2 separate regions of the Homo sapiens genome follow, and region 2 is reported to be linked to region 1. Evidence: microRNA targets listed by miRTarBase, many of them from high-throughput screens and not tested one by one. Region 1 holds a microRNA gene; the other region holds the end of a gene's coding sequence.

The links. Region 1 holds the annotated microRNA hsa-miR-6515-5p (UUGGAGGGUGUGGAAGACAUC, at 900-920, shown strand). A microRNA usually pairs through its seed, bases 2 to 8, with sites in the 3' UTR of a target mRNA and lowers its output. Matches are read on the target gene's strand: a 7mer-m8 pairs with bases 2 to 8, a 7mer-A1 pairs with bases 2 to 7 and ends in A, and an 8mer does both.
Region 2: the mRNA of RAB6B is a reported target of hsa-miR-6515-5p. Seed matches in the 3' UTR shown: 7mer-m8 at 1,167-1,173.

Annotation. Positions count from the first base shown.
Region 1 is chr19:12,939,587-12,943,384 of GRCh38, forward strand. MIR6515 (microRNA 6515) reads left to right here and starts at 898; the gene lies at 898-954. It overlaps CALR (calreticulin), which reads left to right. Exons shown (of 9, transcript NM_004343.4): 3 at 1-45; 4 at 467-561; 5 at 657-866; 6 at 955-1,068; 7 at 1,158-1,301. RefSeq lists enhancers at 1-70, 307-1,506, 843-1,470.
Region 2 is chr3:133,826,124-133,829,123 of GRCh38, forward strand. It overlaps RAB6B (RAB6B, member RAS oncogene family), which reads right to left. Exons shown (of 8, transcript NM_016577.4): 8 at 1-2,729. The coding sequence ends at 2,665. It also overlaps a transcript of SRPRB not described here. Among named protein-coding and RNA genes, the nearest start is that of SRPRB, 22 kb to the left of the region's middle.

The sequences.
Region 1 (3,798 bases):
ACCAGACAGACATGCACGGAGACTCAGAATACAACATCATGTTTGGTGAGGGCCTGCTTCCTGGTGCTGATCTCTGTCCCATTAGTTAGAGGGAGACCCAGACCCCATTGACTTTCTTAATAATGATTTTTTTTGGAAGGGGAGCTAAAAGAATAAGTCCCAGCAACAATTTATTGCATTATGATCGCAGATCTAGGCTGTTAATTTAATTTGCGTGTTTGTATATAGTTATTTCCCAATCTTACTAATGAGGATTTTGAGTTCTAGAGCACTGATTTTTTTTTTTTCTCCTTTAAACTTAAGGCTCCACCCACAGCCCATTCAGGACAGAATCAGGGTCTGAGTTTCTCTTCTCAGCCTTGACAGACCCGAGTTGAAGAACCAGGTCTTCCTTTTATAAAGAGGGGTGAGAGCCTCGAGATGATGGGTAGTCTCTGACTCTTAACTGGATCTGCTTCACACCTAGGTCCCGACATCTGTGGCCCTGGCACCAAGAAGGTTCATGTCATCTTCAACTACAAGGGCAAGAACGTGCTGATCAACAAGGACATCCGTTGCAAGGTGTGCCTGGGGGTGGTGGCAAATGGCTGTCATGGGGAGATTCAGAGGTCAGCCTCATTGGGGGGTGGCCCCCGCTCACCTTCTTCCTTCTTCAGGATGATGAGTTTACACACCTGTACACACTGATTGTGCGGCCAGACAACACCTATGAGGTGAAGATTGACAACAGCCAGGTGGAGTCCGGCTCCTTGGAAGACGATTGGGACTTCCTGCCACCCAAGAAGATAAAGGATCCTGATGCTTCAAAACCGGAAGACTGGGATGAGCGGGCCAAGATCGATGATCCCACAGACTCCAAGCCTGAGGTTGGTGTTTGGGCAGGGGCTCTGCTCTCCACATTGGAGGGTGTGGAAGACATCTGGGCCAACTCTGATCTCTTCATCTACCCCCCAGGACTGGGACAAGCCCGAGCATATCCCTGACCCTGATGCTAAGAAGCCCGAGGACTGGGATGAAGAGATGGACGGAGAGTGGGAACCCCCAGTGATTCAGAACCCTGAGTACAAGGTGAGTTTGGGGCTCTGAGCAGGGCTGGGGCTCACAGTGGGGAGTGCACCAACCTTACTCACCCTTCGGTTTCCTTCTCCCTTCTGCAGGGTGAGTGGAAGCCCCGGCAGATCGACAACCCAGATTACAAGGGCACTTGGATCCACCCAGAAATTGACAACCCCGAGTATTCTCCCGATCCCAGTATCTATGCCTATGATAACTTTGGCGTGCTGGGCCTGGACCTCTGGCAGGTGAGACTTGGAGGAAAAAGGAGGATCCCTGGGGTACCTCAAGTGCATAAGATCACCCAAGAGGAAAGGGACAGGGTAGGCACCCCAGGTGAGTCTGACTCAAAAATGGTACTTCTTGTAAACAGTACTTCCTGGTCTGTCCCTGTGAAGTCCTCACAGCAACCCCTTTAAGGTTATACTTGCTGTGCACCAAGTACTTCCCCAAGTACTTTTATGCAAATCAACTTCTTTACCCCCAAAGACCTAGAAGGTGGTCAGGTAACCCAGTTAGTTAGCTGGGGCTGGGCACAGTGGCTCACCCTTACAATCACGGTACTTTGGGAGGCTGAGACAGAGGATTGCTTGAGGCCAGGAGTTACACAACTCAACCTAGCTTGGCAACACAGCGAGGAGACCCTATCTCTACAAAAAAAATTTTTTTTTTTGAGACAGAGTTTCACTCTTGTTGCTGAGGCTGGAGTGCAATGGCACGATCTCAGCTCACTGCGCCCTCCGTCTCCTGGTTTCAAGCGATTCTCCTGCCTCAGCCTCCGGAGTAGCTGGGATTACAGGCATGTGCTACTATGGATGCCAGGCTAATTTTTTTTTTTTTTTTTTTTTTTGAGACCGTGCCTTGCTCTGTCGCCCAGGCTGGAGTGCAGTGGTGTGATCTCTGCTCACTGCAAGCTCCGCACGACCCCCCAGGTTCACTCCATTCTTCTGCCTCAGGGTCCCGAGTAACTGGGACTACAGGCACCCCCCACCATGCCTGGCTAATTTTTTTGTATTTTTTTTTTTAGTACAGACATGGTTTCACCGTGTTAGCCAGGATGGTCTCCATCTCCTGACCTCATGAACCACCCACCTTGGCCTCCCAAAGTGCTGGGATTACAGGCGTGAGCCACCTCACCCAGCCTTTTTGTAGAGACAGGGCTTCATGTTGCCCAGGTTGGTCTCGAACTCCTGGCCTCAGGTCATCTGCCCGCCTCGGCCTCCCAAAGTGCTGGGATTACAAGGGTTAGCCACCATGCCTAGCCTCTACAAAAACTTTAAAAATTGGCGAGATGTCATGCATACCTGTAGTCCCAACTACCAAGGAAGAAGGATGATCACTTGAGCCTGGGGCATCGAGGCTGCAGTGAGCCATGATTATGTCACTGCACTCCAGCCTCGGTGACAGAGTGAGACCCTCTCAAAAAAAGTTGGGACTTGGCCGGACACAGTGGCTCACACCTGTAATCCCAGCACTTTGGGAGGCCAAGGCGGGTGGATCACAAGGTCAGGAGATGGAGACCATCCTGGCTAACATGGTGAATGAAACCCCATCTCTAGTAAAAATACAAAAAATTTGCCAGGTGTGGTGGTGGGCGCCTGTAGTCCCAGCTACTCGGGAGGCTGAGGCAAAAGGATGACGTGAACCCGGGAGGCGGAGCTTGCAGTGAGCTGAGATCATGCCATTGCACTCCAGCCTGGGTGATAGCGAGACTCTGTCCCAAAAAAAAAAAAAAATGCTGGGACTGAATTTTTGTCTGTTTTGGTCACTGAAATACCTTCTGTGCCCAAGACAGTTCTGGCATGTAGTAGGTACCTGAAAAATACCTGAATAAGAGAGTGAGAAACAAGAAACAGGTGCAGAGAACTGAAGTCAGTGGCCCAAGGTCATGGGGGTAGGAAACCACAAAGCTGGGGTTTGAACCTGGGCAGTACAGCACCTGAGTCTCTCCATCTTTTTTTTTTTTTTTTTTTAAGACAGAGTCTTGCTCTGTCACCCAGGTTGGAGTGCAGTGGCTTGATCTCGGCTCACTGCAGCCTCTGCCTTCCAGGTTCAAGTGATTCTCATGCCTCATCCTCTCGAGCAGCTGGAATTACAGGCATGCGCCACGACGCTGGGCTTTTTTTTTTTTGAGATGGAATTTCACTCTTGTTGCCCAGGCTGGAGTGCAATGATGCAATCTCGGCGGCTCACCACAACCTCTGCATCCCAGATTCAAGCGATTCTCCTGCCTCGGCCTCCTGAGTAGCTGGGATTACAGGGATGCGCCATCACAGACCCCGGGCTAATTTTTTTTAGTAGAGACAGAGTTTCACTATGTTGCCCAGGTTGGTCTCGAACTCCTGGCCTCAAGTGATCCGTTCGCCATGACCTCCCAAAGTGCTGGGATTACAGGCATGAGCCCGTCCCGTCCCTGGCTGTCTCTCCATCTTTCCATCTTTTTTTTTTTTTTTTTTTTTTTTGGAGATGGAGTCTCACTCTGTCACCCAGGCTGGAGTGCAGTGGCACGATCTTGGCTCACTGCAAGCTCCGCCTCCTGGGTTCACATCATTCTCCTGTCTCAGCCTCCCAAATAGCTGGGACTACAGGCACTTGCCACCACGCCTGGCTGATTTTTTGTATTTTTAGTAGAGACGGGGTTTCACCGTGTTAGCCAGGGTGGTCTCGATCTCCTGACCTCGTGATCCGCCCACCTTGGCCTCTGGGCGAGGATTACAGGCGTGATCCACCTCACCTGGCCTCTCC
Region 2 (3,000 bases), not on the chromosome of region 1:
CGCACGTGCCGAAGGGAGCGCCATGGAACCACTGAGATGGGAGGATGGGAGGAAGCCACCCTCAGCCTCAGAGGCCAAGGGGCTGGGGAGAACCCAAACTCAAAGAGAGGATGTTGTGTGCATGCTAGGAAAGGCAGGACTCACTAAGGCCATGTCAAACCAAATGCTATCTTTTACTGCTCCTCTAGGCCAGGATGGAAACACAGTCCACGGTGCCTTGGATGTGTGTGCCCCTGAGAAGGGAACTGAGTTTCTACTGTTTTATGGGATGTTTTTTTAAAAAAGCTAATCTTTAGTGCCAAGAAAATAAAAATCTACCATACGTTCATTCACTGAGACCCAGTGCAGATTCCTGTAAATGGGGCGGTCTCAGAGGCCACAGGTGATGGCCCCCGCTGCCAACCAGGCAGGACACTGTCATGTGGACTCCTGTAAATTCTCTCGAGGTAAGTAAGCACTCTTCCAACAAGCACCACTTGGGGGTGTGCCCATGGTGGGGGGACACTGGCCCACACAGGCATGCACACCCGTGCATATAAAGTACATAGAGAAATGGTGGAGATATTCCCGTGGGCTATGTTTGCCTGTAGTTTAACACAACTATGCATTATTTTATTGATGGCAAGACAATCACAAGTTATTTGACAATATTAAGTATTTCTTATTTCAACACGTTGCAGTACTTTTGAATTTCCAAAACTTATCACAATGCAAGTTCCAACTTGAGAGCAGGAGAAACAAGAATATACATTGAGCACATGTATCTCCGTGAGGATGTGTTTGTGGAAGGTGTATACACAAGTCTATCTCTATATATAATTATGTACACACATATAAAAACTAAACACATGACATCTGAAACACGTTCAAACATTGGTCCTTGCCTTCTGCAAGAGGTGCTCAGTGGGATCCTGCTTCCTCTCTTCTTCACCTGAAGATAAATTCCTTGCTAGAGATGAGCTCTGGCATACAGCCTCCTAGGCAGAGGGTGTGTGGCAGGCCCACTGCACAAATATCAGTCCTGCCAGATTCTGCTGCACTTACTGCCTGCCATTTCAGATTAATTTCTGAGAAGTTTCAAAATTCATTCCAACGACCTTGTGGAGTTCAGCCCACCATACCCCAGATGGTCATTCATCCCATCTATGACATGCCCAGCAGCAGCCTGGAGGGAGAGCCAATGACAGCAGGGAGGGTGGGGTTTACATTTTGGCCAGACTCACTGCCCATTGCACCTGGCTCTGTGCAGGCTCAGGGCAGTGAGTCTGAGTCTATTTGGAATGCTGGCCAAGTAGGTTATATCACTTAGTGGGAAGAGAGAGTTCTCTTCAGAGACTTTGCAGATTCTCAGGACTAAGCCATTCTCAGGAATGAATCAAAAATGGAAGAGATGGCTCTCTGGGGGCAAGCAGCCTTCTGGAGACCCCACCTGAACCACATCCTCAGGTGACCACAGCGCAGCCACAGTAGCCACAAAGATATGTCCACAAAGACTTCAACTGCGCCATGCCACTGGGGTGAAAACATAGCAACAAATCAGCTTTTCCAGAAAGCACTCAACAATATTAGCAGCTGAGGCTCTAAGAACATGGATCTTTCAAGGTGGTGGTTCTGCAGACAACACCCCCCCCCCCCCCCGCCTCCCCATCACAGAGGATCAACTCCAGGTGGTCCAGCTTCCCTGACATCCAGGAGGAAGGCTTCAGGATGGCACACTGCCCAACATCACACACTGAGTTTCTTAGACTTGGCCCAGGCATGTGTACTGACTGCTGGGTGGGCTGGTTAAAATATTTTCAGAAGTACACATGGCACCCCAGTCTATAAACCACGCACCACGCAGCTGCAATTGCCAACAGCACCTCGTCCTTCTGATGGCCTCTTGCTCTGCCAGTCCCTGAGGGCACAGAGAACACAAGGTTGCCTGTACCCTCAACCCCCTTCAAGGCTTTTCAGGGAAAGAGAAGGAGAGGTGGGAGCAGTTCCTCTGGGGGCTGCTGCCGGGCTGCCTAGAGCCCACAGACCTTGGTCTCAGCTCCACACGAGGTTGACGACCCACTCTGGCCATGGAAAGACAAGAGTCAGAGCTACCTTTTCAGAGGCTGATGTGTTCAACCAATGTTTGATTTAACTGGAGTAGGGCCTAGAGAGTGGGGCCAGATGGCCCCAGACTGAAGCCTAATTAATTTGCTCAGTTAATTGTTTTAATTTATTGGGCTGGGGATAGGAGGAAGGCAGAGGTGATGAATGGTTCAAAGAGAACAGGAAGGAGGAGGTGTGTGGAAAAGGTTCTCTATAAGTTTACAAATATACAAAAACAAAAAGCACATCTTTCAAATAAAAATGACTACATTTTTATCTGGCAAAAAATTGTATACACATGATTTAAATTTTTTTTAAATTTTAACAGTTTTTGGCAATCTTAATAAAGTACAATATATTACAACCAAACCAAAAAATAGTTGTTTAAGTAACAGCCGTTAAGAGTGATGTGATCCCTGATGCCCAGCCTCCCTCCCCATCCCACCCTACTCCTAAAGACAGAGAGAAAAGAAAAATCCTCCCATCTTGATAACTCGGTTCCCTCCCCCCTTAGGAAGCTAGCCAATAGGAAGCAACACAACAAGCAAGGAGTGTCATGGGAAGCCACAGGTCGGCTCTGCATTAGCAGGAGCAGCCGCCCTCGCTGGCCGGGGGCTCCTGGGGTTTGTCCAGCTTGATGTCGATCACTGCAGGGGGACGGGCTAAGGAAGATGACTCTCCTGGACAAGCTGCCACCCCACTTAGCCCTGTGCACTGTACCCTTTGGCTACTGCTCTGTTTCTCTGCAAACACCTAGGGACTTGGCTCTTGGTTTGGCTGGGCTAGGAAGGATGCAATACCAACTCCACCTTGCCTCCTCTTCCCTTCACCCGTCCACTTCCCCCAGCGCCTGTCCACCCAAGCAAAGCCTGTCTTGCCTGGGCCGTGGGATCACCATCTATACCAAGGCCAGGGAGT